5 linked regions of the Homo sapiens genome follow. The protein of the gene in region 2 purifies or fractionates together with the protein of the main gene of each other region. This does not show direct contact. Each region holds a gene or a part of one and is shown on either strand. Other genes may lie near its edges.

What was found.
Region 1: the proteins of TEX35 (region 2) and LYG2 purify together in Homo sapiens (affinity purification with mass spectrometry; 3 studies listed by BioGRID and IntAct, with this or other methods). This does not show direct contact.
Region 3: the proteins of TEX35 (region 2) and GOLGB1 purify together in Homo sapiens (affinity purification with mass spectrometry; 3 studies listed by BioGRID and IntAct, with this or other methods). This does not show direct contact.
Region 4: the proteins of TEX35 (region 2) and PLCD1 purify together in Homo sapiens (affinity purification with mass spectrometry; 3 studies listed by BioGRID and IntAct, with this or other methods). This does not show direct contact.
Region 5: the proteins of TEX35 (region 2) and PADI3 purify together in Homo sapiens (affinity purification with mass spectrometry; 2 studies listed by BioGRID and IntAct, with this or other methods). This does not show direct contact.

The regions. Positions count from the first base shown.
Region 1 is NC_000002.12:99,245,597-99,249,240, reverse strand, and holds part of LYG2 (lysozyme g-like protein 2 precursor), read left to right. Parts: intron 1-2,420; coding exon 2,421-2,561; intron 2,562-3,644. UniProt on the Homo sapiens protein: May act as a potent antibacterial protein that may play a role in the innate immunity.
Region 2 is NC_000001.11:178,519,574-178,523,217, reverse strand, and holds the end of TEX35 (testis-expressed protein 35), read right to left. Parts: intron 2,847-3,644; coding exon 2,782-2,846; intron 2,546-2,781; coding exon 2,344-2,545; intron 1,997-2,343; coding exon 1,954-1,996; intron 1,547-1,953; coding exon of another isoform or gene 1,494-1,546; exon of another isoform or gene 1,406-1,493; intron 894-1,405; coding exon 778-893; 3' UTR 568-777; downstream 1-567.
Region 3 is NC_000003.12:121,743,212-121,746,855, reverse strand, and holds part of GOLGB1 (golgin subfamily B member 1), read left to right. Parts: intron 1-3,644. UniProt on the Homo sapiens protein: May participate in forming intercisternal cross-bridges of the Golgi complex.
Region 4 is NC_000003.12:38,009,754-38,012,720, forward strand, and holds part of PLCD1 (1-phosphatidylinositol 4,5-bisphosphate phosphodiesterase delta-1), read right to left. Parts: intron 1,921-2,967; coding exon 1,791-1,920; intron 1,693-1,790; coding exon 1,461-1,692; intron 810-1,460; coding exon 608-809; intron 523-607; coding exon 378-522; exon of another isoform or gene 301-377; coding exon 151-300; intron 59-150; coding exon 1-58. UniProt on the Homo sapiens protein: The production of the second messenger molecules diacylglycerol (DAG) and inositol 1,4,5-trisphosphate (IP3) is mediated by activated phosphatidylinositol-specific phospholipase C enzymes. Essential for trophoblast and placental development.
Region 5 is NC_000001.11:17,280,065-17,282,526, forward strand, and holds part of PADI3 (protein-arginine deiminase type-3), read left to right. Parts: intron 1-285; coding exon 286-365; intron 366-606; coding exon 607-732; intron 733-2,462. UniProt on the Homo sapiens protein: Catalyzes the deimination of arginine residues of proteins.

The sequences.
Region 1 (3,644 bases), on a different chromosome or scaffold from region 2:
CCATGTTGCATAGGCTGGTCTCAAACTCCTACGCTCAAGCAATCGTCCTGCCTCAGCCTCTCAAAGTGCTGGGATTCTAGGCATAAGCCACAACATCCAGCCCTAAGTACTGTCTTATAACAAATATTTGGACTCTTAAGGTACAAGTTAACAGTCCTTGAAACCGTTAGAACAAACTTTTCAACATTACAGAAAATAACTTTGTATCTCCTTTAGCAAAAGCTCTGCCTCTCCTGTAACAGGTAGACTTGGACAGAAATTCACTTTTTAATGACAGAACAAAAAGACAAGAATAGATTTGACTTAAATTATTTTGGCAAATTCAATTTTTACTTCTAATTTTATTAAATATACATAGGAACTCAACTTCACAGTAAATGATATATAATAAGAATATATTTAAATTGTTATGGTGCCCTTCTTTCTTATCTTTCTAAACAAAGGCAAATTGGTTTTTTTTGAATTTTATTTATTTATTTTTATTTTATTTTATTTTATTTTATTATTATTATACTTTAAGTTTTAGGGTACATGTGCACAATGTGCAGGTTAGTTACATATGTATACATGTGCCATGCTGGTGTGCTGCACCCATTAACTCGTCATTTAGCATTAGGTATATCTCCTAATGCTATCCCTCCCCCCTCCCTCCACCCCACAACAGTCCCCAGAGTGTGATGTTCCCCTTCCTGTGTCCATGTGTTCTCATTGTTCAATTCCCACCTATGAGTGAGAACATGTGGTGTTTGGTTTTTTGTCCTTGGTGATAGTTTACTGAGAATGATGATTTCCAATTTCATCCATGTCCCTACAAAGGACATGAAGTCATCATTTTTTATGGCTGCATAGTATTCCATGGTGTATATGTGCCACATTTTCTTAATCCAGTCTATCATTGTTGGACATTTGGGTTGGTTCCAAGTTTTTGCTATTGTGAATAGTGCCGCAATAAACATACGTGTGCATGTGTCTTTATAGCAGCATGATTTATAGTCCTTTGGGTATATACCCAGTAATGGGATGGCAGGGTCAAATGGTATTTCTAGTTCTAGATCCCTGAGGAATCGCCACACTGACTTCCACAATGGTTGAACTAGTTTACAGTCCCACCAACAGTGTAAAAGTGTTCCTATTTCTCCACATCCTCTCCAGCACCTGTTGTTGCCTGACTTTTTAATGATTGCCATTCTAACTGGTGTGAGATGGTATCTCATTGTGGTTTTGATTTGCATTTTTCTGATAGCCAGTGATGGTGAGCATTTTTTCATGTGTTTTTTGGCTGCATAAATGTCTTCTTTTGAGAAGTGTCTGTTCATGTACTTCGCCCACTTTTTGATGGGGTTGTTTGTTTTTTTCTTGTAAATTTGTTTGAGTTCATTGTAGATTCTGGATATTAGCCCTTTGTCAGATGAGTAGGTTGCGAAAATTTTCTCCCATTTTGTAGGTTGCCTGTTCACTCTGATGGTAGTTTCTTTTGCTGTGCAGAAGCTCTTTAGTTTAATTAGACCCCATTTGTCAATTTTGGCTTAAGAAAGGCAAATTGTTAATCTAGATGTTCACATCTCCAGAGGCATTTGTGTCAGAAATGTTTTAAAATTCCTCTCAAAACAATAGACACTGGGGACTGTAAAAGGAAGGAGGGAGGGAGGAAGGTAGGGAGGCAAGGGTTGAAAACTACACATCAGGTACTGTGTTCACTATTTGGGTGAAGGATCAATAGAAGGCCAATCCTCAGCATCACACAATATGCCCACGTAACAAACCTGCACATGTACCCCCTGAATCTTAAAAAAAAAAAAAAAACTCTCAAGTTTCCTGCTTAAAAACCTGTCAGTTTTAATTCTGACATAGAGCATGGTATGACTACAGTGCCTGTAATCCCAGCACTTTGGGAGGCCAAGGAGAGAGGATCGCTTGAGCACAGGAGTTTGAGACTAGCTTGGGCAACATAGCAAAACCCCATCTCTACAAAAAGAGAAAATAAGCCAGTCCTGGTGATATGCACCTGTGGTTCCAGCTACTCAGGAGGCTGGGGTGGGAGGATAGTTTGAGCCCAGGTGTTGGTGCCTGCAGCGAGCTATGATCATGCCACTGCACTCCAGCCTGGACAACAGAGCAAGACCTTGTCTCTTAAAAAAAGGAAAAAAAAAGACTGCACATGTATTTAGGATCTATAAGAGATGAATTTCATAATATTTTGCATAGAGTTTTCAGATTACGTCCTGTGTTAATACAAAACAAAACAAAAGATCGGAGCAGAGTGGGCATGGGGAACTTCTGTCTGAGGAACAAATAATGGCAACAAGAGAGTTGGGGAGTTCTGTCTGTGGCCTTCTGCCTTTGGTTTAGTGATGTTTATTGCAGCAACCCAAGTAATATCTTCTCAGAGGATTCATGTGAGTTACACTTCTGCCTCCTAGGCACTTCCAGGGGCTCATACCCCTTCAGTCACTCAATGAAGCCTCACCTACATCCACGCCTGTACCACGGCTGCTATGGGGACATCATGACCATGAAGACCTCTGGGGCCACTTGTGATGCAAACAGTGTGATGAACTGCGGTAAGTGAAAAGCAGAGCAAATGACTGGCTTCCCCCTTTCATCGTTTTCAGATTCTTTCTTAGGAAGTCACTTAATTTTGAAAAGGTATAATCATCATTATGACAATAGTATCAAAATTAAAAATGAGCAAAAACCACAATCCTGACCAATCTAACAACCAGCTTCTTTTCATTTTCCACCCCCATTCTTTCCAAACTTTGTCCAGCTGTGTTTATTTCCATGTATTGAAACTACTGCTTGAATAAATATTAGACTCTGGCTTTGTTTTTTGGGTGGTGCTGCTGTGTTTGCTTCATGTTACACATGACCATTTGAAGCAATACTGTTCCAAAGTCGTCTTCATCACGTTATCCTGGTTTTAGAGTGTCGGAGCTGGCAGCAACCACAAGGTCACATCAGACCCCAACCCCTCAAATTTACAAATCAGAGCCCAAAGACTCAGCAAGGAGGGGAATACTTCCCAATAGAACAGAACCAACTAGTGGCGGAGCCAGGCTAAAACATGCATTGGCTAACTCCTAGTACAACAGGCTTCCCAGTGCACTAGTGTGGCAGAATTTTTTTTGTGTGTATGACAGAGTCTTGCTTTGTCACCCAGGCTGGAGTGCGATGGCATGATCTCGGCTCACTACAATCTCCACCTCCCAGGTTCAAGCGATTCTCCTGCCTCAGTCTCCTGAGTAGCTGGGGTTACAGGTGCCTGCCACCAAGTCCAGCTAATTTTTGTATTTTTAGTAGAGATGGGGTTTCACCATGTTGGCCAGGCTAGTCTTGAGCTCCTGACCTCAAGTGATCTGTCCACCTCGGCCTCCCAAAGTGCTGGGATTACAGGCATGAGCAATTTGAAGGAGAAACAGAGCAGAAGCGACACCTGTTGGGGGTTGTGGATCTGTTTGTTTCTGCAGTCAGAGATCAAAAGGATGTCTTAGAATGGTTGTCCCAAGTCATTAGCAGTGATCAGAGGCTGTGGCTAACTTAGCAAATTTTTAAAAATGGTTTTCTTCTGAAGTAGAAGAAACAGTTTCTTTTCTTTTTTTAACTTTAAATTCTTTTTTTTTTTTTTTTTAATTAGAGATGGGCTC
Region 2 (3,644 bases):
AAGCAACCTAAGTGTCATCAACAGATGAATGAGGAAAATATCGTACACACACACAATTGAGTTCTATTCAGCCATAAAAAGAATGAACTCCTGTCGTTTGCAACAATGTGGATGGAACTGGAAATCATTATGTTTAGTGAAATAAGCCGGGCACAGAAAGACAAACATCGCATGTTCTCACTTATTTGTGGGATCTAAAAATGAAAACAATGAAACTCATGGATATAGAGTAGAAGGATGGTTACCAGAGGCTGGGAAGGGTAGTCAGGGGCTTGGGGGCCGGTAGGGATGGTTAAGGGGTACAAAAAATAGAATAAATTAGACCTACCATTTGATAGCACAACAGGGTGACTACAGTCAATAACTGTACATTTTCAAATAACTTAGAGCGTAACTGGATTGTTTGCAACTCAAAGATAAATGCTTGAAGGGATGGATACCCCATTCTCCATGGCATGCTTATTTCACCTTGCATAACTTTGTCAAAACATCTCATGTACCCCATAAATATATACACCTACTATGAACCCACAAAATTAACCATAATAATAAAATTCCAAAAAAAAAGAACTTGGCCAATTATTTATTAGATGGTAGAAGCAGCCAGCTTAGCAAAGAGATGAAACAAGGAGGAACTGGTGTGAAATAAAATATGAAATCCCATCATTCCTCGTCCTTCAAATTGAAGCCAAAGAATCACACCCAGGGCAGGACAGTTTCTGAAACACTGTTTGCTCTGTATCTTCTTTACTCTCATTTCAAGCTGGCAGTTAAGCTTCACCTTCCCTCAGTCTGGGACTTTGGGGCAGGCACAGCGTGGCCCACAGAAGGTTGGGTGGTCACTGGCTCCTCTCCACCTTTGTAAAGGCCTGAGGCCTCTGAAGGAATGTTCCCTTTGGGGGTGGAGGGAGGGAGAGGAAACCTTCAAGGGGGTGAGAAGGGTGGATCCCCAGAACCCAAGAAAGCTACCCAGTTCCTATGAGCAGCAGGGACCTGAGTCCTGCTTGGTGACAAGACCTCAGAGGGGTGTGGTGCAGGCAGAACTCGAGGCTGAGGGGTTCCCTGCATCACCCAAGACACCCTGGCCCCATGCACAGGTGGAGGCTGATTATGTGGAGGGAGCGGATGGGCCAGGCAGCAGGGTCTCTCCTGAGACCACACAGACTGGCGTCCGCTATCATCAGGGGCCCTCCCCATGCTATGACCTGGGACGTTTGCAGACCCAGGTGGAATGGAGGGAGGTGGTGGTTGGGAGGACCCTAAGATGACTAAGATGTAATTTCCCACCAATCCATCAGGAAGCAGGGGGAAGGGTTGGAGTCTGAAATACACTGATATAGAACCAAAAATAATCAACCTCCACACACTCAAGTTTTGGACTGGTACTCAAAACCATGACATCCCCTTTGGCTTTGAATGAAGGTTTTTAATCTCCAGTGGAGGCCTGGGGTTGGGGTGGTATTTAACAGGACAAGAAGCCCTGACTGTGCATCTTAAGGAGCTTGGAGGTGATGAATCGGAACTGCTGGTAGGTTCTGCAGCTGCGCTAGGTTGGAAACACATATTCGATGTCACCGGGGTTGAGGTACAGATAAATCAGAAGGCAGCTCCAGAAGCCAAGGGTGAAAAGGGTGCCCAGACCTGGTGTGAATATTTCCCACTGGATGGGGAGAAAGGGCAGGACCTGAGGCAAGGTCAGTTCCGCCACTAGTGGTGCACCCTCCCCACCATGGGAGCCCCAGGCAGCAGCCTCTAGGCTGGGTGACCCAAGTCCTCCTTCCTGGTGCCACATCCTGTATGACTGAGCATGCTGGGTGGCAGCATCTGCTAACAGTCCCTACTCCTGGCACAACCTCAGGAGGGGTGTGATGTGAATGCGGCTGGGAGCACATGGCCTTGGGGACAACAAGGCACCTGATCGAGAAAAGGCACATCTTGTATGAATCTACCTACCCCGATTGTAGTTGTTCTTTAGAGCACACAACAAACATTTCTCCTGCAGAGGACAGAAACGGCACAAGAAAGATCAATTTCCCCTGGTCCAAGAAGGGCAGCCTGCTAGGCACCTTATCTGCCCTTGCTAAAGGGAAGGACAGAATAAGAGGGTGGAGCTGGCGGGTAGGCCCATCCAGGGTCAAGTCCTGCATGGTCACAGCTAAGGAGGCTCCACAGGCCTAGAAGGCAAGGCAGGTCAGGGAGGGCGCAGGCTCGGGCGGCACCCAGAAGTCAGCAGCGGGCGGACCTGTCCCTTCACTATGATACAGCACAAGCTCGGGGAAGTCACCAGGGAGCCGGAGCCAGGGGTCTGGCACCAGTGCTGGGCTCGGGCAGGGTTTCACTTACGCAGCAGGTCCCACAGTGATGAAGGGGATCCAGTGAGCCCTGTTTTGTTTTTTGTGGTGCCATCGTCTTCTTGTGAAGAGCACAGGGTGCTCCATTGACTCCACTGGCTCCATCCATTTTCTTGGGCCTGAGCTGTGGTTCTCTGTGAGTCTTTCCCATCAGCCTGAGTTCCTGCTGCTCCTTTGGTGCTCTTCTAAGGGGACTGGGGGAGGAGGGCCAGGGAGGGGCAGAGAGTTGGGGAGACATTTTGCAGCATGACAAGGAGATAACCAGTACACGGGTGGCCATGGAAGGCCTTGACTCCAAGTCACAGGGGCAGTAGGAGCAAAGACAACTCCTCCAAGAGTCTGGGTGTCCTCTGAACCCCAAAGGGATCCAACAAAGGGAAGGGAGGAGACCCTTTAGGGATGAGGAGAGACGAGTGCAGGTTACACTTACAGCTTATAGTTCTTCTGTGTATTTATTAAAATGTCCATCTTCTCATCCATATCTTTCTGCATTTCCTTCGAGAGAGAATTCAGAACTAGCATCTTCATTTTGAAGGACTTTGGAAATACCTTCCTCCTGCCTCTCTGCAAACCATTCTGCATCTTACTTCCTCAAGAATCCTCGCTAGACTTGGGTGAGGTGGCTTTTGGAGTGTCCGTGACATGTACAGCTTCTCCCCTTCCTCATCCCCCTTCCCCAATGAGACGAAAGCACAGGCAGAGACATTAGGGGACTTTTCTGAAGTCTCTAGGTGAGCCAGAGGCCAGCTACTGTTTTATCTGATCTCACACTTTGGATAAAACCAATGCTTGCCTTGGTTTGATGCCTATAAAATGATGGAACCAAGAAGACCAATCTTGTGACCCCAAAGACAATTTGACTGCAATGTTTTGACCCTTGGCATGCACCCAGATCCTGCATATTTATGTTTGCTTCATCTTTTACCTAATTCCTGGCAAAGATGGTCAACAAAAAGTAAAATGACAGCAGCTAAAGGGATACATCACACGTATTATTCGCTCAGAACAGAAGGAATAATAAAATCTTGACAAAGTTTTGATCTATAAAATGTGACCTGGGTAAATTGAATGGAAATAGTGGACATGAGAAAAATTCTAAGATGGTAGAAGCTATAACTGACAATATTTGTCACAGAGAAAAACAGGTTTGGGTTGTCATAAAACAGAAATAAAAACAATTTATTCCAATAAAATAATTTTCATTAAAAATGAAAGATTTGGTAACAGTTTAATTGATGTACTATAGAAAATTGATCAAGAAATTACACCATCTGCATAGAGATGATTTCATAA
Region 3 (3,644 bases), on a different chromosome or scaffold from region 2:
CTTAGTTTACTCACCTTAAAACTGGGAATATTGACGGTACTCCCTCTTGCGGTTGTTTTAAGAATAAAGTGAGTTAGGCCGGGCGCAGTGGCTCATGCCTGTAATCCCAGCACTTTGGGAGGCCAAGGCGAGTGGATCACTTGGAGTCAGGAGTTTGAGACCAGCCTGGCCAACATGGTGAAACCCCTGTCTCTACTAAAAATACCAAAAATTAGCCAGTCGTGGCAGCGGGTACCAGTAATCCCAGCTACTGGGGAGGCTCAGGCAGGAGAATCGCTTGAACCCAGGAGGCAGAGATTGTAGTGAGATCGCGCCACTGCACTCCATCCTGGGCGACAATAGTGAAACTCCGTCTCAAAATAAATAACATTAAATAAATAAATAAATAAATAAATAAATAAAGTGAGTTAAATAACGAAAAGTAAGTTATGTGTAAAGATATTGGAGCAGTGTTTGGCAGGTCACGCTGTGTATGTATGTTATAGCTACCACTTACAAATTCATTTAATTAAAATAGTGGCTTCTGCATCATGAAAAATAGTTGTTCATTTTCTAATTGTAAAATTATGTCATAATATCGAATGTGTTATTTCCAGCTATACAGCACTACCCATTAGCCCCTCAACTTGGTTGAAAATCACTTTGAGATTTAAGGAATTAAGGACAGCTACTGAGGCTTAACTAAATAAGCATGAAATAAGTTTGAGGAGTCACCTCAACTGAAACCTAACCACCTTCTCTGTGTTTCTGTGGGAAAATGTGATTTAAATTCCAAAGTAGATGGCATATATGCATATATACACAGGCATGCACTCACTGTCTTCAGTTATTTTGCTTATTTTCCTGTGCATATTGTTCTGTTTTCGGTGGCTAGGGACATGCTTTATAATTCTTTTTATATTTTTATAGTTCCTAGCATAATGCTGAACACCAGGTGGTTGTTATAAGAATAATCATTGATAACAGTGAAGACTTGGAGAAAATAAAACTTACTTAATTCTGAGTGCCACTTCAACACATAAGTGTTAAGGTCCTGTGGCAGGGTTTGTGAAAGCTGTGACCAGCATAGACTGAGGAATTGTTTTATTTGCCTTAGTGTTTTATGGAATCCCTGGCCTTGGCATGAAGCTCTGTGTTTTATTCTTTTCCTTAGTTGCTATTCATTATTTTGGTGCCTTATAAAATAACAGCAAGAACATTGTCCAACAGTCATACATATTCCTTACATGAATTTATGACTATGAATATGACTATTCCCCTTTATTAATCTTTACATATATGTATACATATACATACACGTATACATATGTATATATATACATACACGTATACATATGTATATATACATACACGTGTACATATGTATATATACATACACGTGTACATATGTATATATACATACACGTGTACATATGTATATATACATACACGTGTACATATGTATATATACATACACGTGTACATATGTATATATACATACACGTGTACATATGTATATATACATACACGTGTACATATGTATATATACATACACGTGTACATATGTATATATACATACACGTATACATATGTATATATACATATACATACATAGATTTATGACTATGACTATGAATATTTTCCCCTTTATTAATTTTTATCTATACATTTGCCCATTTCTGTCCTCAGTGAGCCTAATAGAGGGGAGTACCCATCTTTCTTCATTTAGCTTAAGCATGGCTACTTACTGGCTTTCTTGCCCTGTAGTTCCCAACCTTTGAGCTACCAAAAGCCTACAACTGTGGGTGAGATGCCCTTCCATTTACATTTCCAGATTATTCCTTTAATGTCAACAGCTGTAGAGTAGGGGGCATTAGAATGGTCCTTGTTAGTCTTCATTTTAAGATGAGGAAACTGACGCTTTAAGGTGACTTACTCACTATGATGCAGCTTCTTATTGAGCCAGGACGGAAAACTCAGTTCCTTGGCTTCCAGTTTGGTGCTCTTCCCACTATGTCACCTGCTTTCCTGTGGATCTCTGAGACTGTTGAATCAATCTATGAGAGACTCCTTTTGTCCTGCCTGAACAGTACATCTCTAGCACTCTCTCAGATTTTTATCTCATTTAAATATTAGTCTTTCCTTTCTTAAAATGTACATATTTTTAAATGGTTATGTGAGAAAAGTAATCTATTTTTCCTTTAAATAGCTTTTTGTTTTATTCTATCAATCTTTTTAATTTTTTTTTTTTTTTTTTTGAGACAAGGTCTTGTTCTGTTGCCCAGGCTGGAGTGCAGTGGTGTGATCATAGCTGACTGCACTCTCAAACTCCTGGGCTCAAGTGATCCTCCTGCCTCAGCCTCCCGAATATCTGGGACTGCAGGCATATGCCAGTATGCCCAGCTAATTAAATTTTTTTTTTTTTTTTTTTTTTTGTAGAGACAGTCTCACTATGTTGCTCAGGCTGGTCTTGAACTCTTGAGCTCAAGCCATCCTCTCACCTCAGCCTTCTAAGGTGCTGGGATTACAGGCGTGAGCCACCCTGCCTGACTGCTATTGTATTATATATTTAACTGAGGGACCTTGAAATGTCTTAATTTCTGAGTGTCAGTTTCCCTCTATAAAATGGGGATGATGATAATACTTATCTTACAGATTTTGTTAAGATTAAAGAGTATATAAAGTGGTACAGTCACTTTGCATTTAAATTAAATGTTTCTCAATTGTTGCCATTAATATTATCATTATTATCCTGTGTTCATGTGTATGTGTTCCTCATTTGCTATGATATTCAATGATATTCAGTAGGATGCTGATGGGCACGCTCCTTTCTAGGGAGGGTCAATCAGAAACTCATGTGGTAGTGGTATGGGTTTCCATAATGGATTTCATAATAATTAATGATATTTGAATTACTAGAATAAATCCACTTGGTGATAATATTTTTCAGTATCTAGTCAGATTTAGTTTGCTAATATTTTATTTAATATTCTAATTAAAATTTATTAGAATGTTGTCATCAGTATTCATAGGGAGATGGTTTGTAATTTTTCATTTTCTTTTTCTATGTTTTGGAGCAATATAAACAGCAACTTCTGTAGCACTTAGATTATCTCATTTTTGACAATTTGGTAAAGTTTTCTAATAGCAACTATTTCTGGTGTTTTAGCATTGGTGACTTATTTTATAATTTTTCCATGGAAATATGTGTATTTATAATTTGTATTCCTAGAGGTATTAATTTTGATTAACTGTATTTTTTTTATTATACTTTAAGTTCTAGGGTACATGTGCACAACGTGCAGGTTTGTTACATAGGTATATATGTGCCATGTTGGTTTCCTGCACCCATCAACTCGTCATTTACATTAGGTATTTCTCCTAATGCTATCCCTTCCCCAGCCCCCAACCTCCAACAGGTCCCAGTGTGTTATGTTCCCTGCCCTGTGTCCAAGTGTTCTCATTGTTCAATTCCCACCTATGAGTGAGAACATGCGGTGTTTGATTTCTGTCCTTGTGATAGTTTGGCGAGAATGATGGTTTCCAGCTTCATCCATGTCCCTGCCAAGGACATTAACTCATCCTTTTTTATGGCTGCATAGTATTCCATGGTGTATATGTGCCACATTTTCTTAATCCAGTCTGTCATTGATGGACATTTGGAT
Region 4 (2,967 bases), on a different chromosome or scaffold from region 2:
CAGGGGGCAGGAGCCCCCCGAGCTTCTTCCCCTTCAGCAGGATCTTCCCCTTCAGTTGCTAGGTGGGGAGGGGCAACTGGTCAAGACACACCTAGCGCCCCGGCTAGGCTCCCCACCCTCCCCCAGGGATCCCCCATCCCCACCACACACCTCAGGGGAGGGCAGGCTGTTGGTGACCCCATCCAGTGGTCGGTTCAACAGCATGGGGCCCAGGATGGCATGCAGGTGCCGCGCCATCACGCGCTGCTGCTCCAGTGTGCAGTGGTTCTCCAGGGATAGGATGACAGGGTAGGGGGACGCCTGGAGGCCCAAGGGCACATTAGGAGTGGTGGGCCACCCCTAGCATCCCACTCCTCACCTGCCAGGGGCACTCCCACCTTGAAGGCATAGTCCCGGATGGCCCTGAGCACATCGCAGAAGAGGATCTTGGAAGTGAAAGTATAGCCGTGGTAGATGATTGGTTCCTGGTTGGGCCCGTCCCAGCAGTCAAGCTCCAGGCATCGGCAGCCTTTGCACAGTGCCCTGCGGGGAGGGTGGTGGCTAGGACCCTCCAGGTCCTGTCCCGGGTCCCACCCAGACTCCCGACCCAAGGCTCCCTGAGCAGCACCGGATGTAGGCTTCAGTGCTGCTGGGCCCGGCTAGCTGGTCCTCCAGCAGGTAGGTGTTGTGTGAAGAGGACACCAGGTAGTGGCTAAGTGGCTGGCCCATGTCCTGGTAGACACGGCGGTGTGCCAGGCTGAAGGCGCTGCCGTCAGCCGACAGTAAGTACATGAGGAAGCCGTCCTTGGTCATCTGCCGCTGCGCCTTGGCTGGGAGGGAGGAGGCCACTGCCCGTCAGAGCCAGCCTCCAGCAGGCGCTCCTGGCTGCCCACCCATCTGGACAGAGGAGCCCTCTGAACCCGCTTGCCTGCCTGTCCTGAGCCAGTCTTCCAGAGCTCTTGGAATTAGGATAAGTCTGAGGCTCTCGACCAGACTGTGGCTACTCCAGAGTGGGGCCCTGTCTCCTCCTCCTCCCCTGTCTGCACACTCTAAGACCCCTGAGGACAGGGTGTCATCTCCCCGTTCTCTGTACCTCCAGACTGGAGCCCCCTCCAGGGCAGGGACCCATCTTCTCTGCTCTATCACATCTCAAAGCTGGGCCAAGAATGAGTAAAAAAAAAAGAAGCAGGAGTAGCATCTGCTTTTCAGCCATCTCTCTTGTTTCTTGAAGAAGGGGTCCTCAAAGCCCCCTGAAGGAGGTGCCAAGAGGGAAACAGGACCAGAGAAGGGTAGGGATGCCAGAGCCCTGTCTCTCATCTGCCGGCTTTCATAGGACCAGAAAGTGTGGAGCAGGGCCCCGGGGCTGGCTGAGGCAGCCCCTTCCCTCCGGTTCCCTTCTTTCTGGCTGCAGTCTCCCCAGGGGTCTCCCAGCCCAGTGCGGCCCTGCGACTGCAGGTAGCAGGCCCTGGTCAGGCTCTCACCAGTCTCGCTGGGCTCGTAGCGCTCAATGAGGGAGAGGGCCAGCGCAGGCCCTGCCGCCTCCTCCCGCTGCTGGTGCTGCAGGAACGTCACTAACTGATCCACCGACAGAGTCTCCCCTGAGCCCGCGGCCTCGGCGAAGGTGCGGTCGATCTCCACCCGCTGGGTCAGCATCTTGTAGAAGGCCTCAATCTCCTCGTCCTCCAGGGAGTCTGTCTGGGAGTGGTCACACTCCTGCAGAGCCAGGACAGCCGAGTGGGCTCAGAGCAGGCCTTGGGCCGGGGTCAAGGGCCCCATGGACAGGCAGCCCCAGCCCCCACTTCCTGCCTCACCCTGAAGATCTTCCGGGCATAGCTGTCGTCCACCTGGATGTTGAGCTCCTTCAGGAAGTTCTGCAGCTCCTTGAAGCTCATCTTGTTGTCCTTGTTTTTGTCAGCTTTTCGCAAGCAGGAGTGAATCCAGCTGGGCAAGAAGTAAGGAAAGAACCCAGGAACCCTGGAACCTACCAAGGTCCCAGCCAGAGCCATGGATGGCTCCAGCTGAAGCCACCTATAGCCACAGCTCCCTGCAGGCCTGACTTACTACACATCCATGTTTCAGTGGCCTCTTCAGAGGAAAATGTTAAGGGGTCTTTTTCTATTTGCTGGTTTTCAAACCTTTCAAAATTTTTAAAACATTTCTTTTCTTACTACAAAAGGGCCCACTGTAGACAATTTAGAAAATGCAGAAAAGTAAACAATCAAACAAATCTCCCGTAGTCTATCACCTAGGGATAAATACTATCAACATTCCAAAGTATATCCTTCTGGTTTTCCTTTTCTTTTTTTTTTTTTTTTGACAAGATCTCACTCTGTCGCCCAGATTAGAGTGCAGTGGCACAATCACAGCTCATTGCAGCCTAGACCTCTCAGGCTCAAGTGATCCTCCCACTACAGGTGTGCACCGCACCACCACGCCTGGCTTTTTTTTTTTTTTTTGGGTAGAGACAGGGTCTCCCTATGTTGCCCAGGCTAGTCTCAAACTCCTAGGCCCAAGCAATCCTCCTGCTTTGACCTCCCAAAGTGCTGGGATTACAGATATGAGCCATCTGGACTGGTTTTCAACATATAATATATAATAATAAATATCCAACACTAAAGAAATGGATATTCCACCTGCTGAATAGCCTTCAGCACACGAATCTCGTGCTTGGCTGGACCATTCTAAACTTGACTTTTTTCACCTGGCTTTCTGTCATAATTATTCTTTTCCACATCTATACCCATATATATACAATTTGGAAAACATATATATGTTAGAATGAAGTTTTTTTTTTTTTTTTTGGAGACGGAGTCTTGCTCTGTTGCCCAGGCTAGAGTACACTGGCGCGATCTCGGCTCACTGCAACCTCTGCCCTCTGGATTCAAGCAATTCTCCTGCCCTAGCCTCCTGAGGAGCTGGGATTACAGGCGTATGCTACCATGCCCAGCTAATTTTTGTATTTTTAGTTGAGACGGGGTTTCAGCATGT
Region 5 (2,462 bases), about 160 Mb from region 2:
CATTTCCAGTGACAGGCGTTACCACTTCCAGTGAACTCAAATAAAGGTCTCAGTTCATTCCACTGTGGCAACCAGACCCTCCCACTCCTTATACCCCAAGATGTGCACAGTGGCCAAGGCAAGCTCAGACAGGTGGAACCCACCCAAGGCCTGGGAAAGTCAGAGGCTGCTGACTCGGCAAGACCATTAGCTGTGAACTTGGCTCCTGCCTGTCTGCTTCCCTAAGCAGGTGGTCCTCACGTTGGTGCTGTCCCTGTCCTTCTCTTTCATCTCTCTCCTTCACAGATGATGAGCAGGTCAAGACCATCTCCATCAACCAGGTGCTCTCCAATAAAGACCTCATCAACTACAATAAGTTTGTGCAGGTACAAGGGCTGTGGTGTACCTGTGGGCTGTGATTTGGGAGTAGGCGGGGCTGGAGGCAAGGATGGGATACAGACATCTGAGGCTAACTGTTCATGAAAGCTCAGGTTAGAACAGGCCCAGACAGAGGGGTCCCAACACCCTCTTTTGACCCAGAAGAAGTGAGGGGAGCGACAGGATGCCTTGGTGCCCCCAAAACACACTGGCAAGGTGTCCCCAACTCTGGCCCTCCCCTGCCCCCAGAGCTGCATCGACTGGAACCGTGAGGTGCTGAAGCGGGAGCTGGGCCTGGCAGAGTGTGACATCATTGACATCCCACAGCTCTTCAAGACCGAGAGGAAAAAAGCAACGGCCTTCTTCCCTGACTTGGTGAGGGCACTACCCATGACTCCTTTGCCAAATCAGGCTGCAAACCTCTAAGCTCGAGAGAGGAAAAATGTCTGGTCACAGTCATATTTAGGATTGTGGTGGCCAGTGGGGGTGGCAGGGAGAATCAGGGGTCCTATGGTGCTCCTCAGAAGGGCTTCTAGCTGGCTGACCACCATGGTCCCTGTGGAATGCTTGCTGGCCAAGCCCTGGCCCAAGGGGCATCAGGGAAGGGGTCCACTTGACATTTGTGGAGTGAATGAATGATTGCATGAGGTCACGTGTGCAAAGCACATGGCATCAGCTGGGAACCCAGATGCTCATTCTGCTCTCTTCCTCCCAGCTTGTGGCTCTTCATCCATCCCACATGTATTTAGGGTGTCCTGTGGCAGATGCAGAGATGATTAAGAATGCCCCCTGCTCTCAAGGGACTTTCAGTCTAATCGGTTGAGAGGGAAACTCTTCCCTTCTCTGAGGACATGTCCCAGTGATCTATTTTGTAGGATAAGGCGATGTGGCAGTTTGGAGGTGAGACAAAGCACTTCCAGCCTAAGAGGTAGAACTGGAGATCCAGGAAGTCTTCATGGAAGAAGTGGCTTTTGACTGAGCCTTGAGGGCTTTGCCTCTGATGCTTGTAAATCTTTTTTTCTTTTTTTCTTTTTTTTTTTTTGAGACGGAGTCTCACTCTGTTGCCCAGGCTGGAGGGCAGTGGCACAATCTCACTCACTGCAACCTCAGCCTCCAGGGTTCAAGCGATTCTCCTGCCTCAGCCTCCTGAGTAGCTGGGATTGTGGGATTGCAGGCGTGCACCACCACGCCCGGCTAATTTCTGTATTTTTAGTAGAGATGGAGTTTTGCCATGTTGGCCAGGCTGGTCTTGAGCTCCTGACCTCCGGTGATCCACCAGCCTCGGCCTCCCAAAGTGCTGGGATTACAGGCGGAAGCCACCGTGCTTGGCCTGCTTCTAAATCTTGAGCTTGCCTTTGAAACACCTGGACAGGTGGGGCCCCACCCCAGCGGTCCTGATTCAGCAGGTCTAAAGCACGGCCCGAGGCACTGCTGCCGCGCTAACAAACACCCAGGTGGTGCTGATGCTGCCTTTTAGAGGAACACAGTTTGAGTAGCACTGCTATAGGTCACCCAGCTCCCCTCTCCACTCCTCCCCACCTCATCCCCTAAAAGAACTCAATTTGCCCATTGTCAGAGCCTTGTGGGGAACCTGTCCACACCACCATTGCTTCATGCCCCGCTTTTTCCTTCCTCTTTTCAGGCAACATTTTGCCCTCCGCTTGCAAAGCCTCTTTTCACTCCCCTTCCTTCCTGTTCGAGGCTATCTTGTAATTATATATGTGCCCCAAGAAGTTTGTGCAATGATTCAGGTTCTTGTGTTCGCAAGAGACAGAGTCCTACTGAAGCCAGCTTCAGCCAGAGGGAGTCTTAATATAAGGACACCAGAAACCTGAGGGCAGGATAGCTGCAGCAGAGCCTGGAACCCTCTCTGTTTCTGTGTCTACATCATTCATTCTCTCTCTTTCTCTCACCCTCTCCACCTCCTACTTCTTCTCCCTCTTCTTCCAGCTTGGCTTCCTTTGCTTCTCTGTTCCTGGGGACAAAGATGAGTATGGCCATGCACAGAGACACTGACACGGGCAGAGACCAACTAGACGCTCCCATTGTCAGTTTCAAATTCCTGGGAGAGGGACTCTGATTGGTCCATCTTGGACCAGCTGTTC